Linked DNA regions of Homo sapiens. The protein of the gene in region 1 interacts with the protein of each later gene in a biochemical or structural test. Each region holds a gene or a part of one and is shown in the gene's direction. Other genes may lie near its edges.

What was found. Proteins that work in one complex are often made in the same cells at the same time.
Region 2: the proteins of MNAT1 (region 1) and POU2F1 form a complex in vitro, tested with the Homo sapiens proteins (one study listed by BioGRID).
Region 3: the proteins of MNAT1 (region 1) and POU5F1 form a complex in vitro, tested with the Homo sapiens proteins (one study listed by BioGRID).

The regions. Positions count from the first base shown.
Region 1 is NC_000014.9:60,793,733-60,800,769, forward strand, and holds part of MNAT1 (CDK-activating kinase assembly factor MAT1), read left to right. Parts: intron 1-2,484; coding exon 2,485-2,637; intron 2,638-4,354; coding exon 4,355-4,428; intron 4,429-5,526; exon of another isoform or gene 5,527-5,659; intron 5,660-5,679; exon of another isoform or gene 5,680-6,309; intron 6,310-7,037.
Region 2 is NC_000001.11:167,419,886-167,426,922, forward strand, and holds part of POU2F1 (POU domain, class 2, transcription factor 1), read left to right. Parts: 3' UTR 1-7,037. UniProt on the Homo sapiens protein: Transcription factor that binds to the octamer motif (5'-ATTTGCAT-3') and activates the promoters of the genes for some small nuclear RNAs (snRNA) and of genes such as those for histone H2B and immunoglobulins.
Region 3 is NC_000006.12:31,163,800-31,167,682, reverse strand, and holds the end of POU5F1 (POU domain, class 5, transcription factor 1), read left to right. Parts: intron 1-512; exon of another isoform or gene 513-1,635; coding exon 1,636-1,756; exon of another isoform or gene 1,757-1,981; coding exon 1,982-2,112; intron 2,113-2,396; coding exon 2,397-2,555; intron 2,556-2,815; coding exon 2,816-3,082; 3' UTR 3,083-3,346; downstream 3,347-3,883. UniProt on the Homo sapiens protein: Transcription factor that binds to the octamer motif (5'-ATTTGCAT-3'). Forms a trimeric complex with SOX2 or SOX15 on DNA and controls the expression of a number of genes involved in embryonic development such as YES1, FGF4, UTF1 and ZFP206.

The DNA.
Region 1 (7,037 bases):
GTGGCCACACAAACACTAAACTCAACAGTAGCATATTACCCGTGGGAAGTGAGATACAGAACACAATGAAGTAGAACTTTGAGTTATTTTTCTATATAATTCTATATTTTATAAGCTTTAAAGAAAAAATATTCTTTTCACAGTTAAAATTAGAAATGGAAAATGTTACGTAGGAAAATAAACTGCAATAAAAAATTTTAATACTATTTAAATTATTATGACAAGGCAGATTATAAAAAGTGGAGATGTACAACTGATTTTGGAAACAATATATTATGTCTAATATACAATATAACGTTTAGAAATATTAATGTTCTATATTACCTTGCTGACTAAACTATTGATTGAGTCTAATCTCCAAGACCTTGAGATATATTAATGTTATTTGTGGCTCTGTAATTTTGACTATTTTGGATAGATGCTTACTTATAAATATCTTTAGTTAGTATAGTTGTAAAGTTTGCCTGTTTTCACCTTCCATGGATGGGTTTAATTTCCTCTAACCACAAAGAATAGTGAAAATGCACCACTCTGAAACTTCCTAAGTCCAGAGTGGTTTATCTGGGGTTTAGTTGATCTTGCTAATGACACTATGATCTTTGGAATTTTTCCCTGTTATTTTTTAGTGACACTATTAAGATAGAAATATAGGCCAGGAGTGGTGGCTCATGCCTATAATCCCAGAACCTTGGGAGGTCAAGGCAGGAGGATCGCTTGAGCCCAGGAGTTCGAGACCAGCCTGAGCAACATGGGGAGTCCCAGTCTCTACAAAAAAATAAAAAAATTAGCAGAGCGTGACAGTGTGTGCTTGTTATCCCAGCTACTGAGGAGCCTGATGTAGGACGATTGCCTGAATCTGGGAGGGCAAGGCTGCAGAGAGCTGTGACAACTTCACTGCATTCTCAAAAAAAAAAAAAAAAAAAAAAAAATATATATATATATATATAAAATAGGTATATATATACATATGTGTGTATATATATGTCTGTGTGTGTATGTATATATTTAAAGATCAATGTTAGTATTTTACTAATAACCTTAAAAATTCTTATTTTTCTTATTACTTTTCTTATTTAGCTTATTCTGTAAGTTAAATACACACTTGGAAGAAATCAACTCTTCCCTATTCATTAGAATTTCTCTTTTTCCCTTTGTCTTGTATTCATTTTTTTGTTTTGTGAAGTTTACTTAGTGAGTACTTAGCGTTAGGCACTGCGGATAGAGAACAAGATAGGCAACATTCTGTCTTTATGAAATATACTGTACTTCCTTGTCTAGGAGACAGAACACAGAAATAAATAAGATGATGTCAGATATTGCCAACAAAAGGAGTGATTAGGACTGTGTGGTCCTAACACATATGGAATTGGGCAAGATTACACCTGGAGGACTACAAATGTTTAAATATTTATCAAAACATTCGAATATTTAAAAGTTATAAATCAAGCCACATCCTTGGCCCAGCCTGATTTCCTACACAGCATGTTGAGTTGCCAGCAGCCTATACCCTCAAGACTCAGAGGCTAAAGGAACTGCTCTCTCCTCCCATCCATCTTTGTAACCTGCCTGACTGAGTGGTAGTATGGATCTGTTGGGGTAGGGCAGGGATGATTGGGGTGGTACCTAGACCCATCTAAAACAGTATATTAACAGATCCCACCAAGTCCCCAGGAATCTGGTTATAGAGAGGTTTGCCTCTCCAGTTCATTGTTTTTTCAACTCAAGTCTTCTAGGAAGTTGTAAGCCCTTCTTAATGTTGCACTACCAGAAAAGGGGATGCAGGTATCTGGGAAACCTGGCTTGCCTGGGAATTCGGTTTGCTTTATTTGGGGCAACGAACTTTAACCGAATAAAGCTTTTATAAGCAGCCACTCTTTCTGGGATTTCTCATGGCAGAAGTTGTGTTCATTTTCTCCCTCACACATACTGGAGCGCTCAAAGTTCTTTATCCTCTGGCCAGTGAGGCCTCATTCAGCTAGCACCTCTTTCTTGTAATTGTCATTTGCTCAGTTGATTACTGAACTTTCAAAAGACATTCTTACAAGGAAAGGAAGAAAAAAACATCTGTTTTAGTGCTTGGGGTATATAGGGCTCTCTAAAGAGCAGGCCCCTGGCAGAGGCTTCTCTTGCCCAGGTCTATGGATGATATTGGGACTGGGGATGGAGGTGACCATACAGTAGCCTTTTACATGCTCTTTGACTTCTCCCTATCCTGCTCTTCTTCCTAGTCTCTCACTCAATTTGTTTTAATTTATAAATTTGTTTGATCTGTAAAACTAAACTGGTATCACTTGGGATACCTATATCTGAAAAGTAAGCTCCAAATGAAAAAGAACATTTTCCAGAAAGTTTTTTGGTAAGATTTTAAATAGAAGTGACTAGTTTTCAAGTCTCACTCTCCTTATCCCATAGGGGCAAACTATTCAGATGTGTTGTAGATTTGAACATTGGCTTAAATGTTATGTTTTATTTCTGTCCTTACAGCTGTGAAAGTTGTGTAGATTTACTGTTTGTGAGAGGAGCTGGAAACTGCCCTGAGTGTGGTACTCCACTCAGAAAGAGCAACTTCAGGGTACAACTCTTTGAAGATCCCACTGTTGACAAGGAGGTTGAGATCAGGAAAAAAGTGCTAAAGATGTAAGTATTCCTGCTCGAATGATTCAGTCAACAAAGAGGACTTTAACAATTATGTCAGTAATTGATTATTATTTGCTCATAAATGTGGACAGATTAGCAAGTAAATAACTATAAATTCATTTAAGTTCTTAGAGAACTGAGTAATATTATTTATCTTTGTTAAAGAAGAGCCTCTTGATTGATGGCTTCATTATTCATTTGTATTTATTCTTTGATTAATAAACATGTATTGAGTACCTACTATGTATTGAGTACCTACTATGTGTAAACACTACTATGTGTAAACATGTTATGCATGTTAAGCAGTAGTTATGAAGTGATGAGTAAAACAGCTATGAACTCTGTCCTCATGAGACTTACCATACAGTAGCATAGGATAGCAAAAAGACAAAAAAACAAGTAAACCAAAACAAATGTTATTTATTATAGATTGAGAATAGTGCTATATAGTTAGTGACTCAGTGTTGCTGTGGTCAATGATGTCAGGTGTGGGCAGAGGAGGTAACATTAAGTTGAAGTTTGAAGGCTATTAGAGAAAATTACGTGTTAGCTATAGTTTATTTTGGTATGTGTATTTTTGTGTATATAGATATACACACATGGGCATAGTAAATATATGTGTGTATATATGTATATATATACCTATATATTATTAATCTGTCTTTTTCATTTACAATTTAGGCTTTACTCTTTACTCTTTGTTAATAGTTTTGGGTTTCCTTTTATCTGTTATTATGAGAAATAATTGATATGTTTATTTTTATTTTTGGTGGTATACATTTCAACCCAGGTAACCAGTGTTTTAGCAGCATCTTTCTAGGTACATAACCAATAATACTTTATCAATCCGCCTAGCGGCTCTTTTATTGTTTGTATAACTTCTGCAAGGTAGTCTCTTAGATTTTGATCTTTCATTGGTAATTCCTTGCAATTTACTGATTCTTTACAGGTACATTACAATATATACAGATTTTCTTGATCCAGTATTTTTTAGACTATGTCATGAAAAATGGAGGAGTCGCTTCAATTTTTTGTGTTTTGGAAATTAGTGAATCCCTTAGAAGTAAATAATACCATAATTTCCAATGTTATGTCTTGCTTAAGCTCATTTCCCAATCTTTCAAGCTCCCAATTTATCTTTCCCTGAAGTCTTAACAAGGATTTTGCATATTGTACCATTTTCTCCTGATCCTACTTCTTCTCCGTAGTCATAAGAATTTAAGAATTGCATTTTTGGTCTGGTTACAAACCTGGTGTCAAGAAAAACAGTGTTTTAGGCTGGGCGCGGTGGCTCATGCTTGTAATCCCAGCACTTTGGGAGGCCGAGGTGGTGGATCACTTGAGATCAGAGTTTGAGACCAGCCTGGCCAACATGGTGAAGTCCCATCTCTACTAAATACAAAAAACATTAAGTGGATATGGTGGTGTGCGCCTGTAATAATCCCAGCTATTCGGGGGGCTGAGGCAGCAGAATTGCTTGAACCAGAGAGATGGAGGTAGCAGTGAGCCAAGATTGTGCCACTGCACTCCAGCCTGGACAACAGAGCAAGACTCCATCTCAAAAAATAAAAATAAAAAAATAGAGAACGATGTTTTACACAGTAAGCAATTCTTTTCCATGTATCATATATGAATTAGGTCAGAACAAGCAAACCAGTTAGATAATATTAAAAGCAATGATATGTAATATGTAGATTTCTTTTTTCTTTTCTTAAAGATACAATAAAAGGGAAGAAGATTTTCCTAGTCTAAGAGAATACAATGATTTCTTGGAAGAAGTGGAAGAAATTGGTACGTTTTTAATTTGATGTATGCTAGCCTATAAGACCATGTGCTTTTATCTTTTAAATGCTTAGGAGAACATCTCACATAAAAACCTCTTAACAGGTTTTGTTGTGATAGCTAACATTTACCTAATTACTTTCTTTTGCACTTGAGTCATGTTTGTCAAATTGAAGGCATACTTAAGTAAAGAACCTATTTAATATTGTCTTTTAGGAAAAATATGTTTAATAGAGATAGTAACACTTCATAGCTGGGGAGGAAGACTATATGGGTACATGCATCTGTGTGTTGATAACATATTAGAGTAGTTTAAATGAATGGAAAACATATTCTGATTTTTCAAAAATGGGGTTCCTATTAACCATATTTATAGTGACTAAAGCCATATGTTTATCATTATTTGTGCTTCTGTGGATATAGTAGTCTTAAAGTACTTTGAAGCAGTTGACTGTTGAAGTGGCATTCTATTAATCAGTATTATTCTGGAATCAGAGGTTGGAGTAATCTTTGTGCCTTTTCTTTCTGATGTGTTTAGTCAAAAGGAAGATTTTATCAAGAAAAAATGATTTCAGTTTTCTTAAATAAAATTTCAGAGATGTTAAAAACTTTGGAAGTTGTTATATGTTGATTTAAAAAATAATGCTGCTTTTTAAACTTGCAGTAATTATTACTAAGTGCGGGTTTGGAAATGACACAAAGGTTATATACTGTGAACATTAGAATGAGACTATGAGGATCAAACAGCAATCATTTTTATTCTTTCAAACTTAATAGGTAACTGTACTCAATATTTACTATTAAAAATAAGATTATAATAAAATGGATCATTCTTTAGAAGATTTATATATGATAAACTTAACAATTCAGATTCCTGAGGAATAATAAATATTCTAATTCCTTTAATTTCTTTACTAGAAAATCCAGAAAATCTTTTTGTTTCAACTGTTACCTGAAACTTTTCTCATATGTCTAAGTTCATTTGTTATGCCATAGCAAAAGCATGTGGAAAACATAATTTAGGGTTTCTCTGGGATCTTTCAGTGCCATAAGAGCCACTGCTTTTCCATTCTGCATGTACTCATTGCACTTTGTATGTTATCTTAGCAATCATGAGTGACTATGGATTTTAGCTGAAAAGATGGTAGAATTGGGAGTGACAAGGCAAAGTGGAAAAGTTAGAATGTAGACTGAGAAGAAAAACCAGAAAGAAATCTACAAGAACTGGGCAAGTATGAAGGTATGTAGAAATCTGGCTCTATATAGATACTAAGTATAGGACAAGCTGTTGGATAGCAATTGGGAAGAAAAGTAGCTTACATATATTCTAAAGGTAATGTGATTAGTCAAAAGTCTGGTCAAGCAATAAAGGGAAAGGAAATTATAGGTGTTGCAGTACAAGTTGAATACATGGTCACAATTACAAGCAGGCAGTCAGGATAACTAAAAGAAACATATACAGAGAAGGTGAGGAATAGGTTTAGGGGATGAACTACAAGGAGATCTTGATTCTGGGATTAAGATTCTGACTGAGCTATGATTAAAAAAATATATATATATATATACACACACACACTGCATATATATGTGTGTGTGTGTGTGTTGCTCCAAGATAAAGTAATTTGAAGGTGTGGACAACATGGGGCCCATAATTGGTACTAGAATTGATAGGCAAGAGCAAGTCTGGATATTGGGGGTATACAACATGTAATGCTTTCTTTACCAAAATATAGAAGCTGTGGCTCAGACCATTTAATTTGAAAGTGATTCTGCTATTATGTGTATTCATGAAGGACTGTCTTCAGTTGCAGTATCGGGAAACTCTCTTAAGCAACCTCCACTTAATTGTCTCATTGAAGTAACTGTCATTCCCCAGTTCTTCCATAAAAGGTACTCACTGATACCCACAGCATAATGAATGCATTGTGAATGCCATCAACCTTCTTATGCCAGTTGTACTTGTTATTGTAGTTATGTAGTTATGTAATTAAATACATATTTAATATTATATGTAATTTAAATATTTAAAGTGTGTAAGGTTGGGGAAAAAATTGTAAAACTCTAGAAGGATTCTGTTTCTCAGGTTTTTAAGTCACTTCTTAAAAAATGGAAATTGGCCAGGTGCAGTGACTCGCGCCTGTAATCACAGCACTTTGGGAGGCCAAGGCAAGAGGATTGCTTGAGCCCAGGAGTTTGAGATCAGCCTGGACAACATAATGAGATCTATACCAAAATTTTAAAAAGTAGCTGGGTGTAGTGGCACACGTTTGTAGTCCCAGCTACTTGGGAGGCTGAGGTGGATCTCTGAAGTCTAGGAGTCCAAGGCTACAGTGAACCATGGTTGCGCCACTGCACTCCAACCTAGGCAACAGAGCATGCCCATGTCTCAAAAAACCAGAAAACAGAAAAGGAAACTGAACAATATAGATGACAGTTATGGCCTATATAAGGAAGAAGCAAAACTCTAAAATCTAGAATTTGCTCTATGTCATTAAGTTAGAGAATGACTATATACTTCCTATATATGTTTTAAGTTAAAGTATTTGAAGAGAGAGACAGGTGTATGTGTGTGTTTCTCTCCTTTAACAAACTTATTTAAATGTTCAACTATAAATCCT
Region 2 (7,037 bases), on another chromosome or scaffold:
ATAAGATTAAAGATTCTTAGTGAGATCATCTTGCCAATTTGTTGTACATCTCTCATTCATTGTTGGGGGAAAAAAAAGCACAACTATACCTCTTTAATGTTATTTTCTTCCATTATCCCTCATTTATTTGGAAAGATAAGGGAAACCTTGTCTGTATTATCCAGAAGCACAGATATTTGCTTGACACAATATTTAAATTCAGCCCAATCTTTAACATTAAAAAATTTTCTTTTTAACTTGCTGGAAAAGTTGGATACATTGGCAAATATAGGGAATTCATGTCTTTTTTTTTTTTTTTTTTCTGGTCTTGCTCTGTTGCCTAGGCTAGAGTGCAACGGCATGATCTCGGCTCACTGCAACCTCTGCCTCCCGGGTTCAAGCAATTCTCCTGCTTCAGCCTCCCAAGTAGCTGGGATTACAGGCGCCCACCACCGCACCCGGCTAATTTTTGTATTTTTAGTAGGGACGGGATTTCTCCGTGTTGGCCAGGCTTTTTGAACTCCTGACCTTAGGTGATCTGCCTGCCTTGGCCTCCCAAAGTGCTGGGATTACAGGTATGAGCCACTGTGCCCATCCTCATGTCAATTTTTAAAGTGATAAATCCTGATATTATACATTGCAATTAGTGTAGAATAAACGCTTGGCTTATAGAACTCTCTGTTCTTAGTCTAAAGCTGTTCCCAAACCAGGTCATCCTCACGAAACATTCTTGACCAAGAAAAAAGATAAGGTCATTGAGATAGGAAGACAGAGGAAAAGCCTCTTGCTGTTGTTTCTTCCCAAGAAAGGAGAAGCCCTGCCAGGGAGAAGTCAGTAGTATTGCTGACTCACTGTATCACTGAGTGTAGGGTGTGGTAGCAAGGAGGAGGCAGGGGATTCACGCTGACAGGTGGCTCTGGCCTGGCTCTTGGGGGGCCTTCTGAAGACCAGTCTGCAGTTTGAGGAAGGGCCCCAACAATTCATTTGGAGAGCTTGGCCAAATACTTTCTCATTAAATCAGCACCTAAACTTGATGAACTTAAAGTTTGTTTATTAGAGTTGAAAACATTAAAAGATGACTGATACTAATGGGAGAAAAATACTAAAGACCCAAAATTTAAAATTTTCCAAAATGGACAAGAATTGATGGGTTAATTTGCTCATAACTGATATGAGTTTGCTTTTATGTGTGTGTGGAAAGCATTTAATGTGTGATGCTGTTCATAGTCCTGGCTATTTGATGTCATTTTCAGTTTTACAACATTTTGAGGATGACACTTTATAAAATGGTAAATCTTTCTCAGCGTTTACAAACTTGGCTTTTGAGAAGGGAAAAATCCTCTTTGCTATTTCTGTAAGAAGAATAACTGAGATCAGCTATTATATAGGTTTGCATGGATGGTGTCCACAATACAAATGTAAACTTGGACAGGAATAGGATAAATAAATTGCTTTCATCATAAAGGCCAATCATCCATTTCTTAGTCCAAGGAGATTAAATATAAATAGGACACCCCTGAGATTTCCAGTAAGGTATTTGAAAGGATTCCACTGGGAGGGCAGGGAATATATTTTTTCTCAGAGCATCCAGTTTGTACCCAGTTTTCTATATGGTTTGTGAACTGTAGCTTTTAAAAAAAAATTTTGTAGTTTTCTTCTAACCTTATTCATTAAGTAGTTCCTTGTTTTGGCCCTTCTACTCTTGGCCTTAGCTAAAAGCAGTAAATGTGAGTGAATTTTATGTTGATTATGTCACCTGGATCTCCTTTCCTTCCCTTCTTTTTCTCATTGAATGGTGGTACCTTAATTTGGGTAACAGCTAGCTTCTGGCACCTTCATAAAATACCTCAGAATAGCTTAGCATTGTTGCAAAACTGGTTTTAAACTAAAAACCAAATAAATAAGTGAAAAAATTTTATAAATAGTGGAAATAATTCTAGCTGTAGCATTTAGTTGAACTAATGTTTATTATGATCGATAAACAAGATTGATGCTGTATGTATTTGGGATCCTGTTTATAGGTTACAATTTATAGGGTTAGGGAGGGTTGGGTGGGGGAAGAGGAGATGTTGATTATGTTAGAAGGAAAACATTGCTCGTGTGTGTGTTTGTTTTTTCTTATATCTGTCTTGCCAAAGGAAACTTGATTTTCCCTGTGATTGGCTTTGGCCTCTGTGGTCTGGTCTGCAGCAGTGTGTGGTGGCATGCAGGTAACATATGGGGTGTCCAGTAGGTTCAGGGACCCTGAGGGTGCATTTACATCCCTTCCTATGGTTGCCCATGCCCCCCAGACCCTGCCAACCTCTCCTAATGATTCATTACCTCTGTACATAGCAAAAGCATAGGCAAAGGATGAATGCGTGAATGCCTGGATGTGCAGTTGAGAAACAGAGGCAGACATAGACATGCACCAATTAATTTGGAGCCAAGAGGTGAGTGATTGATGTATCTTAAATCTAGGAAAGTTAAAGTGAAACAGGTTCTTTGTGTTGCCCTCTGTCAAGTTACTGAATGTTGTGCTAATAACACAACACTTTAAAACCTTACTTACTTTTCTCATACCAAGGCTAGTTCTTTCTAGACCAAAAACACAAACAGGATAAAAAGCAAACCAAGAAGTTGAAAGCTAACCTGCCCACCTCACCCCTGTGATACAAAGTGTGAACCTTAAGGATTAGTTGGTGGGATTGAGGAGAGAATTATTCTTGGTGGGAACATGAATGAGAAATGATGCTGGCTTAGGAAAAATCACAAGCCCTTTCTGCCCATACTCTGGGACAAACTTTCTTGGCTCCCTGAGTTCGGATATAGACTGTATCTCTAGAAAGGCTATTTTTTTAAATAAATGATCCCACAGAACTTAAGTGGGATTTGGTTTAGATACCAAAGACACTGCTAATGTCATTGCTTATCCTTAAGTTTTCAAAACAGGCAGAGGGAATAGGAGCAAAAAGCCAAAATTTGGAAAAGCTTTACTTTATCTCTTTCCTTCCCTTTTCCCCTTTTCCCAGTCCCCTGCTTTTTGAAGGAAGTCTTCTTGGTTATCCTGGCTTTGGAAAAGAGATTTATTTTGTTTTGCTCTGCTGGCTCTTTAAAGATGGATAGTTGCTCAATCTAGCAGTGATGTTCTTGGAATTGCTGAGAAATTTGGGGAGGGCAAAAGATAGGGGTAGAATTTTTTCATTATTTCCCTTTATCTAATACTTTTAAATAGAACCAACACAGCCTATATGAGTTCAGACAATATTTAGATGTGGTATCTCCATCTGTCTCCTGTAAAAGATAAGAATTTTCAAGAACAGGATTACGTGGAAAACCAAAAGATCTTCCCTTACTCTCCTATAAATGTTTTGTTCCAAATGTTTTTATATATGGGCTCTAGGGAGTCAGGTAGTTCATTGTTTCGGTGTACTATTGATAGGACACAGAAAGGGAGAGAGGGTAAAGAAATGTATCACTCTCTGAATATTGCATCAAAAATGATTAGGTTGCAGAACTTCATGAAAGCTTTACTAATAATCTTATTGTTCTGACATTATGTAAAGGTGGTATTAATATTGTATGACTTGTCAAAGTGCTAGATAGGTTTATAAGTAGGTAATAGGGATGTTGAAGATTAGAGCACTTGAAACAGAAGTTCTGGGAAAACAAGGTGTGTGTAATGGAACACCACTTTGAGCACAGAAACAAAGGTCCCTTGGACCTGGTAGGGAAGATGTGATTTATGATTGTTTCTGTGTCCCTGTATCTGCCCACCCTGCACAGGGCTCCACCACCCAGGGCCACCTTCTGGTTTAAACCCAGGACACTGTCAAAAAGTTAAGACCCCAAAACTAATTTACTGTAAAAAACATTGAGGACTGCTGCAAAGTTTTCCCTTGTTTTCTTTGTGTACTTGTTCATCATTGTATAAGTTAGCCACAGCTTCACAAGAGCAGCTTAAGGCTTCTTTCATAAATTGGCAGTGGCATTGAGTTCTCAAACATTATATCCCAAAGTCTGCAGGCAGACAGCTGGATACAGCGCTGTGTATAAATGAGACGTCCAAACACTTGAGTTTCTTAAGATTGGGATCTCTTTCAAATGAAAAAGGACAGAGCCAAGTAGAGAAAAGACTTTGTGCTCCCACCCAGCCTTAATGAGTCTCATGGTCTAAAAGTATAGGAAGAAATGAAATGCACTTTCAGAAGCTAAAATGACAGTGTCTGCTACAAAAGGCTGTAGTTGTAGGCAGTCGGGGATGCCATGTCCTTGGTTCCATTCCTGCGTGAGTCTGCAGAAGGCACACACTTTGTAAGAGTAGAGTGGACTAGTGCCAGCCTGAATAGGTTTAAAACTGCAAACAGTTGGAGAACATGGAACAGGTTGGTGCAGGAAGCCTAAGATTTTGCAATCATATTATAACATTGGCTTTTGACAACATAAATGTTGTATCTTCCCTAAGGTCAGGTCGGGGAAAGAAAGACTTCCAGCTTCTTACCTCTGCGTGCATGGGCACGTGTGCATTGCTCAGTCCGCAGGAGGTCTCACTCCGCAGGAAACGCTCTCCTCCCGCATAAGTCTGTACTTCCATCCCCTCATCTGTGGTAGTAGTGAAGGCTAGGTGAGTAAGCGTGGGCTGTTCTACCCACCAGAAGTCCAGGAGCTGTTGTATACCTCATTTCTAACTCGTGACCGAGTGACTTGCTTTAACTTTCTCGAAATCCTACAGAGTTGCCAAGTCTGCCCTCCCTCCTCAGTCATGTTAAACTCTGGCCTATAGCATCATGGGACCTGTAGCCTAGGGTGGGACCCCCTAAAGCCTCTGAATGTCGCTGCTTAAAAGCTACTGCAAACTGAGGGCAAATTGCAATCTTCTATTCCTTTTTGTTGCAAGGGGTCTTCACAGGTCTCTTAACATCTGCTTTCCCTGCCACCCTGCCTTTAGGGGCTGGCCAGCTATCCACACCCCTAACCCACCCTGTGTTTCTGACAGCTGGCCACACGTCAACTTCTGTACTTGCCTTTTCCTTGGTGGGGTAGAGGCCAACCCCTTCTCCTCTGAGGCCTCAGGGTTCTGTTTCTTTTCAGGACTTTGGGTAGAAGGGAAGACACCAAAGGCTCCTTTAAGCTGACTGCTGCATACACATTTCACTTTTTTTCCTTTGACATGACCAAAAATATCCAAATATTTAAGTTTATTATTATTATTATTATTATTTGACAATCTTATATCCAATGGGCTCTCTAGAAGCTGCATCCCCAGCCCTTTCACCTTTTCTTTGAATGTAGTTCCCAACCTTCAATTCCCACCCCTAATGCTGACAAAAAGCTTAGCCAGGTCATGATACTGCTGCTATAAGCCAGGGGAGGGTGGTTTCTTTGTTTTGTTTTGTTTTGTTTTGTTTTTCAAATTTCCAGCCAAAACCAAAGATTTCTTAATGATTGTATAAACTCAAAACAAACAAAAGAACCAAAGAAAAGGGAAGTCTTCAGCATCAGTCCAGTCTGTGGTGTCCTGGCACTTAGAAGAGTGAGGCCAGGGAAGGTGGGGCGGGGGGACCCTCTGACTGGATCAGAAAGGGCAGGCAAGCTGCTTACCACCTTCCAGGGTCCAGCACAGGTGCATGCCCCTAGCTTTGGCCCTCACAAACTTGTGAGCATGCCCTGAAACAAATTGGCATTTCAGATTTTCCAAAACAAAAGTCAAAAAACCCCATCACCACCATCATCCACCCTACACCAACCAGGGTCACTATGGGGACTTAGCACAGGGCCTAGGGAGGGTGGGAGCTGCTGCTGGACTGGCCCGAGGACTCCACAGAGTGGGGGACGTTGAAGACACTGGCGCACGATTGGCTGCTCTGCTGGGTGCTTTAACCTCTGGGGCTGGGCGAATGCACGCCACGGTGCCCTTCTGAGCCTTTTTTTCTTTTCCTGTACTGGAACTGCTTGGAAGTGGCTGTCCTGTTTGTGAGAAAACATGCAGAAAGATTATCAAGCTTTTCATTTCTCTTTATTGTAGTTTTCTTTCCTTTTTGCAGCACCACTGTGCAACTATGCATTGTACTTCACAACCTTTTGTGCTAGGTAGATGCCTGTGACTTTTTAACTTGGGGGGTGGGGGGATTGCAAATGAAGGAACTTTTTACATGGATCTTTTTAATCTCAGTTGGTTGGGGGAGGGGGGTACTTGGTTCTTGGGTCACACAAGCTCTATCCCAAAGCAAAATCCAAATGTTAATAATATTAGCCTGATGCAGATACCAAAGATAATTTCTTTCCTGCAGAACCTTAGACTCGTGTATTAAGTACGATTACCCAGCACTTGCATTAGTCTAACCTCAGTAATTCCAAAGCTTAGATGTATATTTTGGTATATTTCTGGGATATTAAAAAAAAAATGTCGTTTAACTTCTTGTTTGTTTCAGTGTAATGCTCTTAAAGTCATAGCATGAAAATAATTGAACTGTCCTATTCTTAGTAGTTTGAAATAATAGTATTTTTGTATGTTTTGGGTGTGTCTATGTATGTATTAACATAACAGTTTTCACTGCCTAGGTGTTCATAATAAAAAAGAAAATGAAAAAAGTTCTGAGTGTACATAATATTCAATAATAATCTCCCACCAGGTGTCAATTTAGATTGCATATTCCTCATTACTGTTCCCAACTGGGATTTTGTTTTCTTTTAAAGAGACAGTGATCGTGTTTTTCTAAAGATGTTTTCTTTCTCTCTTTCAATATCTTAACTCACTTTTTTTTTCTTCCTTTTTTGTCTTAATTATTAATTCAGGGGTGTTTGTCCACTGTTGTCAAAGGAGGGGCACAAGGGGAATTGGCCCCCGGCCTCCTAGAACTTTTTGTTTTATGTACTTTAAAATGTGAGTTTGAGTTCTTCTTTGTGGAAACTTAAGATGTGGTGTAAATGATTCTTTCCAAAATTGTCCAGCAGCTTGAATGAGGCAGTGACAATTCTGAGGTGGTTTATTGGGAGTCCTTCTACATTTCTCTTAGATAACTCTGCACTCTGGGTGGCTATTGTGTAGCCTTACTGCCCCAGAGTGCCTGTTAGCCAAA
Region 3 (3,883 bases), on another chromosome or scaffold:
AGGCTGGAGTGCAGTGGTGCGATCTTGGCTCACTGCAAACTCCACCTCCTAGGTTCAAGCAATTCTCCTGCCTCAGCCTCCTGAGTAGCTGGGATTATAGGGGAGCGCCATGATGCCCAGCTAATTTTTGTATTTTTAGTAGAGACAGAGTCTCACTATGTTGACCAGGCTAGTCTTGAACTCCTGACCTCAAGTGATCTACCCACCTTGGCCTCCCAAAGTGAAGGGATTACAGGCATGACCACTGCGCCCAGACTGCTTTACTTTTTTCCATAATATATATATATATTTTAAATAGAGGCAGCAGGGGTGGGAGAAGGGGCGGCACGGGTCTCACTATGTTACCCAGGCTGCTTTCTAACTCTTGGGCTCAAGCAGTCTGCCCACCTTGGCCTCCCAAAGTGCTAGGATTTACAGACATGAGCCACTGTGCCTGGCCATTTTTTATTTTATTTACTTTTTTATTTTTCAGAGCAGGAGTGGAAGTTTATTATTAAAAAGTTATAGGGCAGGGAAAAAAGGAAAGTGCACTTGGAAGAGATCCAAGTGGGCAACTTGAAGAACAAGTGCCAAATAGCACTTCTGTCATGCTGGATGTCAGGGCTCTTTGTCCACTTTGTATAGCCGCTGGCTTATAGAAGGTGCTCGATAAATCTCTTGAATTTAAAAATCAATTAGGATGCCTCTATAGTGAAAAAGATACAGTAAAGATGAGGGATAATCAATTTAAAAAATGAGTAAGTACACACAAAGCACTTTATCCATTCTTATGACACCTGTTACTTTTTTGCTGTGTTTGTGTGTATGCATGCCATGTTATAGTTTGTGGGACCCTCAAAGCAAGCTGGGGAGAGTATATACTGAATTTAGCTTCTGAGACATGATGCTCTTCCTTTTTAATTAACCCAGAACTTAGCAGCTTATCTATTTCTCTAATCTCAAAACATCCTTAAACTGGGGGTGATACTTGAGTGAGAGAATTTTGCAGGTATTAAATGAACTATCTTCTTTTTTTTTTTTCTTTGAGACAGAGTCTTGCTCTGTCACCCAGGCTGGAGTGCAGTGGCGTGATCTCAGCTCACTGCAACCTCCGCCTCCCGGGTTCAAGTGATTCTCCTGCCTCAGCCTCCTGAGTAGCTGGGATTACAGGTGCGTGCCACCGTGCCCAGCTAATTTTTGTGTTTTTAGTAGAGACGGGGTTTCACCATGTTGGCCATGCTGGTCTTGAACTCCTGACCTCGTGATCTGCCCACCTCGGCCTCCCAAAGTGCTGGAATTATAGGCGTGAGCCACCGCGCCCAGCAAAGAACTTCTAACCTTCATAACCTGACAGGTGTTCTCGAGGCCAGGGTCTCTCTTTCTGTCCTTTCACGATGCTCTGCATCCCTTGGATGTGCCAGTTTCTGGGGGAAGAGTAGTCCTTTGTTACATGCATGAGTCAGTGAACAGGGAATGGGTGAATGACATTTGTGGGTAGGTTATTTCTAGAAGTTAGGTGGGCAGCTTGGAAGGCAGAGGCACTTCTACAGACTATTCCTTGGGGCCACACGTAGGTTCTTGAATCCCGAATGGAAAGGGGAGATTGATAACTGGTGTGTTTATGTTCTTACAAGTCTTCTGCCTTTTAAAATCCAGTCCCAGGACATCAAAGCTCTGCAGAAAGAACTCGAGCAATTTGCCAAGCTCCTGAAGCAGAAGAGGATCACCCTGGGATATACACAGGCCGATGTGGGGCTCACCCTGGGGGTTCTATTTGGTGGGTTCCCCTCTGCAGATTCTGACCGCATCTCCCCTCTAAGGAGTATCCCTGAACCTAGTGGGGAGGGGCAGGGGCAGACTACCCTCACCCATGAAGAGGAGTAGGGAGAGGGAGAAGATGCTTTGAGCTCCCTCTGGGAAGAGGTGGTAAGCTTGGATCTCAGGGTCACAAGGGCCCTGCGTGCTCCCTCACTTTGCTTCTCTTTTGACTGGCCTCCCCCAGGGAAGGTATTCAGCCAAACGACCATCTGCCGCTTTGAGGCTCTGCAGCTTAGCTTCAAGAACATGTGTAAGCTGCGGCCCTTGCTGCAGAAGTGGGTGGAGGAAGCTGACAACAATGAAAATCTTCAGGAGGTAAGGGTGGGAGGGGGATACCCGGGGACCTTCCCTTTCTTGGCCTAATTTCCATTGCTTCCATCACTGGCTCGTAGCTCTCCGTCTTTGGTGCAGTGGTTCTCAGTGGGATGGAGTGAAATTCCTCAGTTCTGCTGGGATAAGGTCCAGAGCCAACCCTTCCAGGATCCTGCCTTTTCACACCACCACCTGGCTCTGCTGACACATCTAGTCACAGACCCCTGTGATGCTGTTACTCAGCAAGTCCAAAGCTTGCCCTTGTCACCCCCTTCCCACCTGCACAGATATGCAAAGCAGAAACCCTCGTGCAGGCCCGAAAGAGAAAGCGAACCAGTATCGAGAACCGAGTGAGAGGCAACCTGGAGAATTTGTTCCTGCAGTGCCCGAAACCCACACTGCAGCAGATCAGCCACATCGCCCAGCAGCTTGGGCTCGAGAAGGATGTGAGTGCCATGTCTCTCTGCGGGCTCCATCTCTTTCCCCTGTCACCACCTCGCTTTCCCTAGCTCTGGCTCCTCCAACTGCTCTAGGGCTGTTGGCTTTGGACAGAATGTCCAAGCAGTCAGGCCTGTCTCAGCTCATTCTCTAATGTCCTCCTCTAACTGCTCTAGGGCTGTTGGCTTTGGATAGAATGTCCAAGCAGAGTCAGGCCCGTCTCAGCTCATTGTCTAATGTCATTCTCCTTTCTGTCATTCACTTGCAGGTGGTCCGAGTGTGGTTCTGTAACCGGCGCCAGAAGGGCAAGCGATCAAGCAGCGACTATGCACAACGAGAGGATTTTGAGGCTGCTGGGTCTCCTTTCTCAGGGGGACCAGTGTCCTTTCCTCTGGCCCCAGGGCCCCATTTTGGTACCCCAGGCTATGGGAGCCCTCACTTCACTGCACTGTACTCCTCGGTCCCTTTCCCTGAGGGGGAAGCCTTTCCCCCTGTCTCCGTCACCACTCTGGGCTCTCCCATGCATTCAAACTGAGGTGCCTGCCCTTCTAGGAATGGGGGACAGGGGGAGGGGAGGAGCTAGGGAAAGAAAACCTGGAGTTTGTGCCAGGGTTTTTGGGATTAAGTTCTTCATTCACTAAGGAAGGAATTGGGAACACAAAGGGTGGGGGCAGGGGAGTTTGGGGCAACTGGTTGGAGGGAAGGTGAAGTTCAATGATGCTCTTGATTTTAATCCCACATCATGTATCACTTTTTTCTTAAATAAAGAAGCCTGGGACACAGTAGATAGACACACTTATCTTGGTTTGTCCTTCAGTTACTGAGGTAGGGATGGGAATATCCAATGCTCATACCCAAGTGACCCTGAAACTAAGGTGCCATTTACACTCCTTAAGGTCACACAACATCAGAGGGAGAGCTGGGATTGCAGCCAAGTTTATTTGTACAGGGCCCTGTGATAGGCTAGTTCCCAAAAGCCTGTGATGCAAGAACTTTTGCCCATAGACTCAGTCACCATGTAGCTGTTACCTGTTCAGAGCTGGCTTTTTGCTTTCCCACCCTACTCTGGAATTCTTAAATGGCTTTATACTTAGAAATCATCTTATTTCTGTTGAACCTAGATCACCCCAACCAGAAACTTCTATTAATACTTTGTGCTTTCTTGATACCAGGGTCTATTTGGTTTCCACTTAAGGTTTTTGCATACTCTGCCCATAAGTGACTCATTAGTTACTCAAGTTTTATTCCTGGCTCTGCCACTAGTTCATTAGGGGTCTTTGCCCCAGAGTCATTTCTTCCATTTTAAAAACTTGGGCTCATTAAATCTAGGTAGGAA